Regions from separate parts of the Homo sapiens genome. Here regions 1 and 3 are each linked to region 2. A link means that fine-mapping ties the variant in region 2 to the expression of a gene that starts in the linked region. Tissue or cell type: whole blood. Region 2 holds a variant in brackets; each other region holds the start of a gene. Each region is shown on its reference strand, or each on the opposite one. Region 1 holds the start of FKBP8 (FKBP prolyl isomerase 8). Region 2 overlaps SLFN14 (schlafen family member 14). Region 3 holds the start of RGS18 (regulator of G protein signaling 18).

Evidence for each region. PIP is the estimated chance that this variant, and not a neighbour inherited with it, causes the effect. A credible set is the group of variants that fine-mapping cannot tell apart.
Region 1: FKBP8 starts here. The variant in region 2 is fine-mapped to the expression of FKBP8 in whole blood (TOPMed, PIP above 0.99).
Region 3: it holds the start of RGS18, and the variant in region 2 is the best candidate, but not a certain one, in a credible set for the expression of RGS18 in whole blood (TOPMed, PIP 0.73).

The regions. Positions count from the first base shown.
Region 1 is chr19:18,541,202-18,545,442 of GRCh38, forward strand. FKBP8 (FKBP prolyl isomerase 8) reads right to left here and starts at 2,372. Exons shown (of 9, transcript NM_012181.5): 1 at 2,285-2,372; 2 at 478-794. The coding sequence starts at 769. RefSeq lists an enhancer at 125-625 and a silencer at 2,188-2,617.
Region 2 is chr17:35,555,862-35,560,102 of GRCh38, forward strand. SLFN14 (schlafen family member 14) reads right to left here. Exons shown (of 6, transcript NM_001129820.2): 2 at 3,866-3,944; 3 at 1,142-2,245. The coding sequence starts at 2,201. Among named protein-coding and RNA genes, the nearest start is that of SLFN14, 2.8 kb to the right of the region's middle. The variant T/C (reference allele first, on the strand shown) is at 1,924.
Region 3 is chr1:192,156,284-192,160,524 of GRCh38, forward strand. RGS18 (regulator of G protein signaling 18) reads left to right here and starts at 2,179. Exons shown (of 5, transcript NM_130782.3): 1 at 2,179-2,473; 2 at 2,937-3,038; 3 at 4,095-4,156. The coding sequence starts at 2,355.

The DNA of each region.
Region 1 (4,241 bases), not on the chromosome of region 2:
CACTACTGTGAACCAACCAGAAGGCTGAACAAAATAACATTCCTCTGATCCACTTGACCCCAGAACACATTTTTTGTTTTGGAAGTTGGGGTCTCGCTGTGTTGCCCAGGCTGGCGTGCACTCAGGACACATTTTTCAGAGCCCAAGCATGTGTCAGACAAATGCCAAAAAAAGATGCATTGATGGGGTTAGGAGCTGCCAGCGCCTGGCGTGCTGGCTGTGTGGCTCTGGGCAGGTGACTCAGCCTCTCTGAGCCACTGTTAGCAGATCTGGGAAACGGGGACACAGCACATTGTGCATGTGTGTGAGTCAGTGGATAGAGTACATCAATGTGAAGCATCTCCAGTAGTTGCCTCTGGCTGGTGATCACGGTGGTGACCACGTGACTTCCAACCCTCACAGCACAGATGGGGAAATGAGGCTCAGGGGACGAGAGGGCCAGGGCCAAGGGCACCCTGATCCACCTTTGCTCCTTACCCAGAATGTCCAGCCACTCTTCTGGGGCCGGGGCTGGGGCGGGCTCGGGCTCCATGGCAGCAAGGAACTCTCGGGCCAGGGCCCCAGGCTGCTCAGCCTCCTCCGCCGGGGGTTGTCCCATGTCCTCCAGCGGTGGCAGCTCACTCAGGTCATCCTCTTCCTCCTCTTCCTCCTCCTCTTCCTCCTCACCCTCTGCATCCTCAACCCCATCCAGTACCTCGAAGTCCTCGAGCGGTGGGACCCCGGCGGGCAGTGGGGCAGAGGGCTCAGAGGGTTCAGCACACGATGCCATGCTGCTGGGGGGACAGGAATTGGCCCTGGAAGTGGGGGGCAGAGATGTGGGTCAGAATCCTACACAGCCCCTCAAAGTCTCCACTGTACTGATTCCCCACACTGCCGATCACTTTCTGTGTAACTCAAGGGCTCCAGGCCTCAGTTTCCTCATCTATACAGTGGGTGTAACAACAACCCCAGCTTGTTGGGAGAAATTAACCCATGCATCAAGCCCTTGGCATCAGGCTCAAATAGTGTTAGCCATTATTAGAGCTAATTATTATTTAATGTTTACAAATACTCCAGGAAGTAGGGAAGATTCCCCTCAACATTTTGCAGAACAGGAAACAGGCCAGAGGGGCAAAGGCATTTGCCCAAGGTCACAGAGAAAGCCAAAGGCCAAAGGAGGATTTGAACCTGGGGCTTCAGGCCCTGTGGCTTTGCCTGATTATAAGCTGAGCGAAGGGTGCTGGGATTTTTGTGGAGAGGACAGCCTCCGAGGCCTTAGGGAAGCCATTTTTAGAGCCTCTAAGGCCACTGGGGGAAATTGAATCTTTTACCAGGGCCTCCCACCTCCAGCCTCTTCTCCAAAGGGGAGACCCTCCCCAAAAGCACCAACTGTAATCACCCAGAAACCCCAAGCGTTTTTTCCTTCCACACTCTGAATCTAACACTATCCCCCACAACCCCAACATCAGGGACCCTGGCCCAAATCCTTCCCCAGGAGACCATCCTCCTCTCATCAGGCCTCGGTCCCACCCCCTCAAAGCAGCCTCCTTTCCAGGAGTGGTCGAGGTCCCACCACATTCTACAGCCTCTTCCTTGCCCCAGACCTCCTGAACCAATAACCAACCCCTCCGTCCCCCAGGCCCCAAGCTCAGAAGAGTGTGGCACAGCCATCAAACCAGCCCGCCGCATCCCCTCCCTAACCCTCACCTGCCTGCTCCTCCCGGGCTCGGAGCCCCACTTTGAGAGACCCTCCCAGCCCCCACCCCCATAATTCCCCGCGCCCGCACAATTCGGCCTCCCCTCCCACCCCCCACCCCAACCACCACCGCCCCCAGCACGGGCCAGCTCCCCCCACAGCCGCTCCGTCTCGCCGTAAACACTCCAGTGTCCCCAGACGCCCCCCCCTTTCCGATCCCATAACACCCCACGCTCTCCTGACGCCCCACAGCCCCGGCCGGGCCCTCAGTCAAGCCGCGACCCAGGCCCCCAACGACCCACGCCTGTCTGACGCCACCAGTCTGGGGCACCCGACCCCCGCACGCCTCGGGCGCCCCTGGCCCTGCACGCCTCCATCGGGACCCCCCCACTGGATCCCCTTTGCCCCCAGTGACCCCCATCCCTGGCCACCCCCGCCCGGCCGCGCCCCCTCGGGCACCCCCGACCCCCGTGCCCCCCCGGCTCGCCACCCCCGCGGCCCCTCGCCCCGCCCATCGGCCGCAGCCCCCGGCGCGCTAGCCCCCGGACCAGCCTAGGCCAGGGCAGCGGCCCGGCCGGCACGGCGCCCCCAGCACCCCAGGACACTTGCCTCTGGCTCCGGGACCCCCACTTGGGGTCCTGCGCCCCCCTCCCCGCCCCCAGCCGCGGCCGCCGCGCCTCGGGAACCAGGTTCGGCCGCTTGGCCCCGCCCCTGCCGTGCCCATTGGCCGCCGCTGCCGCGACTGCCGCACCCGTTGGCTCATGCAGACGTCCGTCCCGGGCGTTGGCACCTCCCCCTTCCTGCTTGGCCCCGCGGGGCGTTCTTAAAGGGACCGAAGCCTCCCGGCTGCTGGGGCTGGGGCGGGGGCTGGGGCGGGGGCTGGGGCGGGGGCTGGGGCGGGGGCGGGGGACCCTGGGCTGGACCCCAACACGGGTCAGTATCGCGCAGCCTGTGCGACTCCTGCCTCTCCTCTGAGCTTCATCCTGACCATCTGCGAAATGGGGATAAACACCCCCATCTATGCACTCTCACCTTGGGGGCTGCTGGGGGCACAGTCCACTCTAAATGTTATTTCCTTAAAGAGTTCAAGCTTGACGGGCAGGGCAGCTCTGGGGTTGCTGAATGACCCATCCTGAAGCCTTAGTTACAGAAGTGAACCTGAGGGCCTGAGGAGGAGTGACGTGCCCAAAGGCATACAGAAACCTCCCTCCCATCCCCCACACAGTTTAATGTCTAGAAGGTTGCCTGGTGCATACTGGAGGCGCTCGATTACTGCTGCGCAGGCGACTGAGCCAGCAGGGCCACTGGGAGGAGTTCCTCCTCTATGCACTGTCTGCTGGAGGGTGATAAGGTCCCCATGGCTCGGGAAGAAGGTGGCATCCTTGATTAGCTAAGTTTTTGTGGATCTTGTTTTGAAACCGGGACACTTCTCCCTCCTTCACTCAGTTTTATTTCCTTCCTAGCAGTTACTCCTTCCAGAATTATCTTGTCATTATTTTGCTTGTGGTTGGAGGGACCATCCCTCACTCTGCTTCATCCTGGCAGAGATTTTTACCTGATTTGTACCCAGCACCTCCTTGAACCATGCCTGGCATCTATAGAAGCTCAATAAATGGGTAGGTGGATGGATGGATGGATGGATGGATGGATGGATGGATGGATGAGTCAGACACCAGCTTTTGGAGGTAGCTATCATGGAGGTGGTAACTGGCTTTTTGGAGATCACTTCTAAGGTTGGAGTTCCCAGGTTACCTCCTACAGGAAGCCCTCCCAACCTCCCCAAGGCAAGACCAGGTGCCCCCTTTAGCTGTCTTGGCACAATGAAGTTGATGAACGTCCACTTCATAACTAGTTTACTTGGGTTTTTTGTTTGTTTGTTTGTTTTTGTTTTTTGAGAAGAAGTTTCACTCTTGTTGCCCAAGCTGGAGTGCAATGGCGCAATCTCAGCTCACCGCAACCGCTGCCTCCCAGGTTCAAGCGATTCTCCTGCCTCAGCCTTCCAAGTAGCTGGGAGTAGAGGCATGCACCACCATGCCTGGCTAACTTTGTATTTTTAGTAGACACGGGATTTCTTCATGTTGGTCAGGCTGGTCTCAAACTCCCGACCTCACGTGATCCGCCCACCTCGATGTACCAAAGATTACAGGCATGAGCCATCGTGCCTGGCCTTTTTTTTTTTTTTCTTTCTCTTTTTTTTTTGAGACAGAGTCTCTCTCTGTCGCCAGGCTGGAGTGCAGTGGCGCGATCTCGGCTCACTGCAACATCCACCTCCTAAGTTCCAACGATTCTCCTGCTTCAGCCTCCTGAGTAGCTGGGACTACAGGCACCCGCCACCATGCCCAGCTAATTTGTATATTTTTAGTAGAGACAGGGTTTCACCATGTTGGCCAGGATGGTCTGGAACTCCTGACCTCATGATCTGCCTGCCTCGGCTTCCCAAACTAGTTTACTTATATCTCTGCCTTTTTTTTTTTGAGATAGGGTCTTACTTTGAAACCCAGGCTGGAGTGCAGTGGCACGATCTCAGATCACTGCAACCATGTCTATCTCCTGGGCTCACGCAATC
Region 2 (4,241 bases):
CCCCCTTGCCCTAGCATCTCCTTTTGCATCATTTTCCCCCACTTGGTGGTGCCCTAAGCCCAGTGGCTTAAGGTTATTAGCTCCTAATGTTACTGAAACAATTCAAATTTGTCAACAATGTTTTGCTTGAAAGAATTAGTGGAGTAGTGGAGTCATTTATTTTTATTTTTTTATTTTTATTTATTTATTTTTTTGAGACGGGGTCTCGCTCTGTTGCTTAGGCTGGAGTGCAGTGGAGTGATCTTGGCTGACTACAACCTCCACCTCCCAGGCTCAAGCAATCCTCCCACCTCAGCCTCCCATGTAGCTGGGACTACAGGCATACACCACCACGCCTGGCTAATTTTTATATTTGGGGGAGAGATAGGGCTTCGCTATTTTGGCCAGGCTGGTCTCAAACTCCTGGGCTTAGGCAATCTGCCCACCTTGGCCTCCCAAAGTGCTAGGACTGCGCCCAGCCTCAGAGTTATTCTTAAACAGTGTTTCTCTAGAATATCATCTCTAAAATGAGGCTATTCCAATTTTGACTGGGATGATCAGCCTGCACAATTTTTTCAACAGGTTTATAGACAATAAAAGGAGACCTTTCCTAACTCATTGCTGATGGCATACTGTAACTTTCCTTTAAAAGTTGCTTAGGCTGGCCAGGAGTGGTGGCTCACACCTGTAATCCCAGCAGTTTGGGAGGTGGAGGTGAGTTGATCACTTGAGGTTAGAAGTTCAAGACCAGCCTGGGCAACATGGCAAAACCCCATCTCTATTAAAAATACAAAAATTAGCCGACATGGTGGTGTGTGCCTGTAATCCCAGCTACTTGGGAGGCTGAAGCACGAGAATCACTTGCACCTGGGAGGTGGAGTTTGCAGTGAGCCGAGGTCACACCACTGCACTCCAGCCTGGGTGACAGAGTCTAAAGAAAAAAAAGTTGTTTAGGCCATAGAATCCAAACATTTCTTGACCTCAGTTTATATTCTGAGTCTTTGGAACTAAAAATGTTAGATAAGGAACACTGTAATGGGAGAACACTTATAAGAAAAATAAATTTCTATTTTTTAACTAACATATGTGATCAAATACCCACAAAAGGCAGAGAAAGGGGTTCCTCCCTGCTGATGGGGACAATGACTTCACTTCCCTTTACCTGACTGAGTATCCAGCATCATGACCACCCACTGCTCAGCTGTCAGCCGTGTGACAGAATTGTCTTTCATGATCCAGGAATCTGGGGCCTCTGCAAACACCACGCAACAGAAGGGCTCCACTTGAATCACACAGACATAACCATCCAGGACATCTTTTTGGTACACATTCAGGATTTTTGTAGTGAAATTTACCTTTGGCTTCTCACAGCAGAAGTGGAATGTAGGCAATTTTTCTATGCAGTTTTCGATTTCTTTTTTTAGTAAGTCAGGATTCACTTTTTCCCACTTACATCCAACCACTTCTTTGCTCTTATCATCCACCCCAATGAGGACATATCCCCCTTGAGTGTTGGCAAATGCAGAAACATAATGAGGCAGCATTTCCTTAATCCGAGGTATGACTTTTTTGGTGGTGAACCTTTTAAATTCAACATGTGTTGACTCAGTAAAGTTGAGTTTCTCCTTATACATGAGTTTGTCCTTTTTAAAAAATTCTGAGGCCAATATCCTCATATCTTCCTCTTCCTGAATGCATCTATTGAGAACCTGCTGAGGATGCAACTTCTTCACCCTTGGTCTTCCTCTTTGGGCTCTAAACCCCTTCTCTCTGAGAAGCTCCAGGGCACTGCTAGCACTCAAGTTGATAGCAGAAGTCACATCTCTCCGATACAAATTGGAGCGCAAGCTGCAAATCCTTAGTGGAAGGCTGAAAACATCTGGGCTCCATGACTTCACAAAAATCAGGAGATTGTGCCCCTGCTGCATGTAGTCAAGGTATTTC[T/C]GTGAACCTGAAGGAAGGAGCTTTTGAAAAGAAGTTTCCAAATCCTGTCCCAGCCCATGGCATTGGTAACTATAGGTTTTATCATCAATCTCTGCTTTGATCACACCACCTCCAGAATTTAACAGTGCACATATAGCCCGGATAATTCTAGAATTCTCAGATCTTTTCAAACAGCTGTTGGTCATCTTCTTCCTGTTTTCTTCTCCAAAAATCACTCTGCCCACATCTACTATTACCTCAGGATACGGCATTTCAGTATCAGTCTTGAGACTCTCCATTTCAGCAGCCCCTCTGTGCTCCAAACAATAAAAGAAAGGAGTTCCTATAATCAGGACAGAAATATTGTTTCTATATTAATAAGAATTCCAAAGATTACAATATTTTCTTCAAAACTATCAATTACTGGAGATATATTTTAATGTTGGAAGTCATCTCTCTCTATATGTATATTTGTTGTTGTTGTTTGTTTTGGGTTTTTTAGTTTTGTTTGTTTGTTTTTGAGATAGAATCTTGCTCTGTTATGCAGGTTGGAGTGCAGTGGCACAATAATAGTTCTCTGCAACCTCAACCTCCCAGTTCAAGTGATTCTCCAACTTCAGTCTCCCTAGTAGATGAGACTACAGACACGTGCCACCAAGCCTGGCTAATTTTTTTTTTCTTTTTTGTTCTTGCTATTTTTTTTTTTTAAGAGATGGAGTCTTGCTACGTTGCAATCCTCCTGCCTGGGCCTCCCTCCCAAAGTGCTGGGATTACAGATGTGAGCCACCGCACCCAACTGGAAATTATCTTTGATACTGCTGTTTTCTAATCACTTTGCCAAATATCCTTAGCCTTGCCAGAATAAGTAGGCATGGATAAAGGTGAATGCCTAATATTTGTCATAATGGAAAAATTAAATTGCTAACATTTTCAGCCATTTTGCATTTCAAATCAGGAAACGCCAACACTGAGCCCAGATATAAAGGGCATGGGTTGGCACAGGAGCCCAGGAAGGTATTGGAGAATATGCAGAAATAGAAGTTGAAGTGAGAAGATGCTCTTATTTATAATTCAAAAGGGGAAGAAAGGAAGGCACTAGAGAACTAAGGAAGTATAATTTTACAGTATATGTACTGTAGAAGATCTTGCTATAAACACAAACATAGGCTGGGTGTGGTAGCTCACATGTGTAATCTCAGCACTTTGGGAGGTGGATGTGAGAGGATTGCTTTCGATCAGGAGTTGAGACCAGCGTGGACAACATAGCAAGACCCCATCTCGACAAAAGATAAAAAAAAAAAAAATGTTAAACATTAGGCAGGTATGGTGGTGCGCACCTGCAGTCCCAGCTACCTAGGAGGCTGAGGTGGGAGGATCTCTTGAGCCCAGGAGTTTGAGGCTGCAGTGAACCATGATCGCACCACTGCACTCCAGCCTGGGCAGCAGAGTGGGAACCTGTCTAAAAAAATAAAAATAAAAGTAAATAAATAAAATTCTATATTTTTATGTATTATTTCATACACTTTGAAAAGCTTTATTTTACTCCTGAAAGAATGTCAGTTGATACCAAATGCAGAAACCTTTTCAACTCTTCACATGTTCTAAATCTCAAAAGTACATTGCCTCATATACAGTGTGATGTGACAGCAGCATTTTCCTTCCCTTCTAATAGTTCTGCCCTGTGCTGTGGAAACCCCTAAGACTTGGAAAAGAACATGAGCTTTTGGGGCATGGTAACTAAACCATTGTCACCCTTCTTTTGCTTCCTAGACCAGAAAACAGCCACCTAAACTGAAATTTGAGCTCTGAAACAAATATTTCAGAAAAGATCTGCTTACCTTTAGTCAATTGCAAAACAAAATATTTGCTAACTCAACCAAAATTCTTCCTCTAGGAGAAGAGAACCCATCTTTCTGTGTGATCTTTGCAAAGCAGGGGCCCTGTGGGCATTGTATATACTCACCAAGAGGAAGAAAGCAGGCATCCGGCAAGACATGTGCACTCCCCTGATATCAATTTGTTCTTGGTTGCCTTCTCACTTCCTTCAGGAAAACCAGAATCAACCTGGGGAATTCTTTTTAGAATGTGAGCCTCTTCTATAGGTACATGTAAATGTAGTATTTTATGGCTCCTTAGGGAAATTTCCCATAACATTCTATTTATATCATAGAATCACAGAAGTGTTGGAAAGGACTTTAAAGATCCTCCAGTCCAACAATCTATAGGATTCTAAAATCTCCTCTATAATATTGCCAACTCCCAACAAGTTGCAAACCTCCAGCAATGAGCAACTCACTACCTATCAAATAGTCCCTCTAGTCCCTTCTAATTTCTGACGT
Region 3 (4,241 bases), not on the chromosome of region 2:
GTGGAGTAGTTCACTTATGCCCATATTTTCTTTTCTTTTTCTTTTTATTTTTTTGTGAGGGGGATGGAGTCTTACTCTGTCGCCCAGGCTGGAGTGCAGTGGCATGATCTCGGCTCACTGCAACCTCTGACTCCCGGGTTGAAGCAATTCTCTGCCTCAGCCTCCCCAGTAGCTGGGATTACAGGCACCTGCCTCCACGCCTGGATAATTTTTGTATTTTTAGTAGAGATGGGGTTTCACCATCTTGGCCAGGCTGGTCTTGAACTTCTGACCTCATGATCCACCTGCCTCAGCCTCCCAAAGTGCTGGGATTACAGGTATGAGCCACCGTGCCCGGCAACTTGTGCCCGTATTTTCACAATTTCTTTTTCCACGGTTCTATCAGCATTGTGTATAGCACACTTCACACATAAATTTAACATATCTTATGAAAAATAATATATTGATTTTATGTCTTTAACTTCTCTGAGTTAACAGTTAAGTTATAGTCCTAGTGACTGGATGATGTCCATGCTCCTATGATTTTCTCTTGTGCTCATTCACCTTCATAGGATTAAACTGATATAAACACAGTGGATACTAATCATTACTAGGGGACAGCAGGGTGGAAGCATAATCTGCATTATCAGTATCCATTTCCAGCAGAAGCTCAATGCAAAATGCCATCATACATAATATTTTTCAATTCTCAGCCAAGGTGAGAGATTTAAAATATGTTCAAAGTACAAGTCATGGAATCAGGGGGTATATGTATAAATATATACTAGAAAGTCTTTAATTTCATATAGATAAATGTTTTGAGCTTTTAGCTGGTATCCCTGATAAATTGTCTTGGTAAAAAAATAATTCAAAAAGACTGAAAATAAAATTTTCTTTTAGGTTTGTATAACTCAGCTTTCAATATATACCATTTTAGATTAAAGCATTCACTACTGGAGATCAAAGATTCTTGGAAGGACTAAAGCACATAGTAGGTGATCAAAGGCTCTGATAATTCCAGATTTTCCACTGGCCTGTCTCTGAAACTTTGTAGGATTAAATTACCTAATGCCTGTGAACTTTGGTTTATTTTTCAATAAAATTTGAATTATGGACTAGAACTGCATTTGTAAGACTTTTGTATTCTATAAAACAGTGAAAGAAGTGGAGGCTAAACCAATTGGAGTTGTCAACATTTTTTTTAATAAAGGCATTAAAATATAAAAACTACCATCTCTACTTAATCCATGTCATTATAAAGAACATTTTTACATTATAAAGAACATTTTAACAACAAAAGAGTCAGGAGAGCAAATTCAAAATAGCAAGTCCTTTATATCAAAGGAATTAAAATAAAGCTTTAAGAAAAAAAACTTTTCATATTTTTTTCCATTTCATCACAGACTGATAAAAATTTCAAAAATGTCTAAAATCATTCTATAGATATGTGCTTAAAACTTTATTTATTTATTTGAGACAGAGTCTTGCTCCGTTGCCCAGGCTGAAGTGAAGTAGCCGGCATGATCTCAGCTCACTGCAACCTCCGACTCCCAGGTTCAAGGGATTCTCCTGGCTCTGCCTCCTGAGTAGCTGGGACTGTAGGTGCACACCACCGTGCCTGGGTAATTTTTTGTATTTTTAGTAGAGATGGGGTCTCACCATGTTGCCCAGGCTGGTCTTGAACTCCTGAGCTCAGGTAATCTGCCCACCTTAGCCTCCAGATTACAGGCATGAGTTACTGTGCCCAGCCCAAAACTGTTAAATTAAATGCTTTCTACAATCTTTTTTTAACCATAAAATTCTGATCTATTGTCTTATTTTGTTACAATATGTTAAGCCAATGTAATTAACATTACATAATCTTATGTCAGTTAAATGTGATTTACTTAACTCATGTAATAACAATAAGAAAAATACTTTTTTAAGAACTGGAGAAAATATCTCCTAATGTTTGATATAATACTTTGCCATAACACATTTTAACACACAGTCCACACATTTAAAAACTTTTTGAAAAGTTCCTGTGGGAAATGACAGTGTTATTTGAGTCTATTAAAGCATCATTCTGGTTGCGCAAACTTGAACGAGAAGTTGCACTGTGGTAAGACTAGTCTTTATCTTAGAGACCAAGAGTCATTTTGCAAATTTGTGGTATCATTTCCCTAAACAACTTAGGACCAAATTGTACTTCATTTCCTCAGTTCTGCATTTCTGCAGAGACAGAAAGAAACGCAGCTCTTGACTTCTTTTTTGTAAACATTACTGTAAGAGTTGTGATAACTTTTTATTCTACTATGTATATGTATGGAATAGTATTAATAAATGAACTAGGGAAGGATGTAATAAATTAGACATCTCTTCATTTTAGAGAGAAGATGGAAACAACATTGCTTTTCTTTTCTCAAATAAATATGTGTGAATCAAAAGAAAAAACTTTTTTCAAGTTAATACATGGTTCAGGAAAAGAAGAAACAAGCAAAGAAGCCAAAATCAGGTAAAATTGTACAATTTTAAGTCAGCCTTATACTTTTAAAAGCATAATTGAGGTTGAAGATTCATTACCTCTTGTTTTTGAACTATTGGGTGGAAAATATATTGTTTGTATTGCTATAATTTGGGAAAAAAAAACACCTTTTTATTTCTTAGGTTTAAACAACAAACTGAAATCTAAAGTGTTCTCATTAAAAAAAAAGTGTAATAATGTTAGCCACATAGAGGAACTAGTGCAATCTTTATTGAAATATAATCTCAAATACTTGATTGTCGGTGAGCAAAAGGAGAAACATTTTCGTATGTTACCCTAATTCCTCCACAAATACAATATTTAAATGGGATTCATGAGTGTGTGGGTATGGGTGGGCGTGGGTTTTTACCAACTACAAAATTTTCTGGTAGTCAGCAGGAGAGATTTTAACTGTCATCTAAATTGTCCTGACATGAAGGCCTTTTTATTACAGAGCTAAGGAAAAAAGAAATAGACTAAGTCTTCTTGTGCAGAAACCTGAGTTTCATGAAGACACCCGCTCCAGTAGATCTGGGCACTTGGCCAAAGAAACAAGGTGAATAAATTTTCAGTATTTTGAGGAAGATTTTGCTGATTCTATCATTAAAGATTTAAGAAAAATGCAGTTAGGGATTTCTGATTTATTGAAAATTACACAGCAATATAAGGAAAGTTAGAAATTTCATTTGAAGAGACTAGAAATATTTCATAAAATTAAATCACTTGAATTAAATCGCTTGAATTGAATAATCACGTGAACACTTAAAGCTGCTCTTTTAAAATTATATACCTGTCAGTTTTAAATGACATGTTTTACTCCTTATAACCTGATAAAATGCTCATTAATTTAAGAGTTTTCACAATGCAATATTGTCATAGCAGAGAGATATTCATCTCTTTCTTCAGTAGTTTGAAAAAACACACGCATTATAGCAAGTAAAGCACAAATAATGTCTTTTAATACTTAGCATTTATTTAATTCAAAAAGAAAATGCAAAAACCTTATATACTAGTTTCATACAAATTCTTCCAAATTAGAGTATAATAAAAAAGATCCGAGAAAATATATTCAATTCTCCACATTACCAACATCTCTAGAATATTTTTTCTATTAAAATATCTTATATTTCTTATCCCTTTGAAACTTTATTAGTCAAACTTCCTGTATCCGTTTAAAAAAAAAATTTGCAGCCTAGTGTGGTTACAGCTTCAAGGAAATTGCAGTATAATTTTTTTTTAACTGAAAGATACTGTGAGTTTAGTTTTTTTCTACTTGCTGAATTTAAACAGATAGTTGACCTGATTTCTTTATATTTGTTATCTGTGCCCTTTAACCTAAAAAAGGATTAATTTTTAATTAAAAAATAAAACTCACATATCCATGAGAAAAAAAATAATGTTATTTCAACACATTATTCAACAGACAAATTCCAAAAGAAAATTGAACAATGTTTTCAAAGTTTCTAATGTAAATGCAATTTTCATTATATTATAATCAAAGGAGAAACTGTGAAATATAATTGAAAAGAGCAGTAAAATAGCATATGTTAGAACAGATTCATAAACAGACTTTCTGCACACTCCATTATAAAACATTTTGTTTCTTGTACAGAGTCTCCCCTGAAGAGGCAGTGAAATGGGGTGAATCATTTGACAAACTGCTTTCCCATAGAGGTTAGTGGTACTTTCACCAAATACTTTGTGTGCTTAATGGAAAATTACACAAACTATGCATGTAATTATCCGAAACAATAGGTCA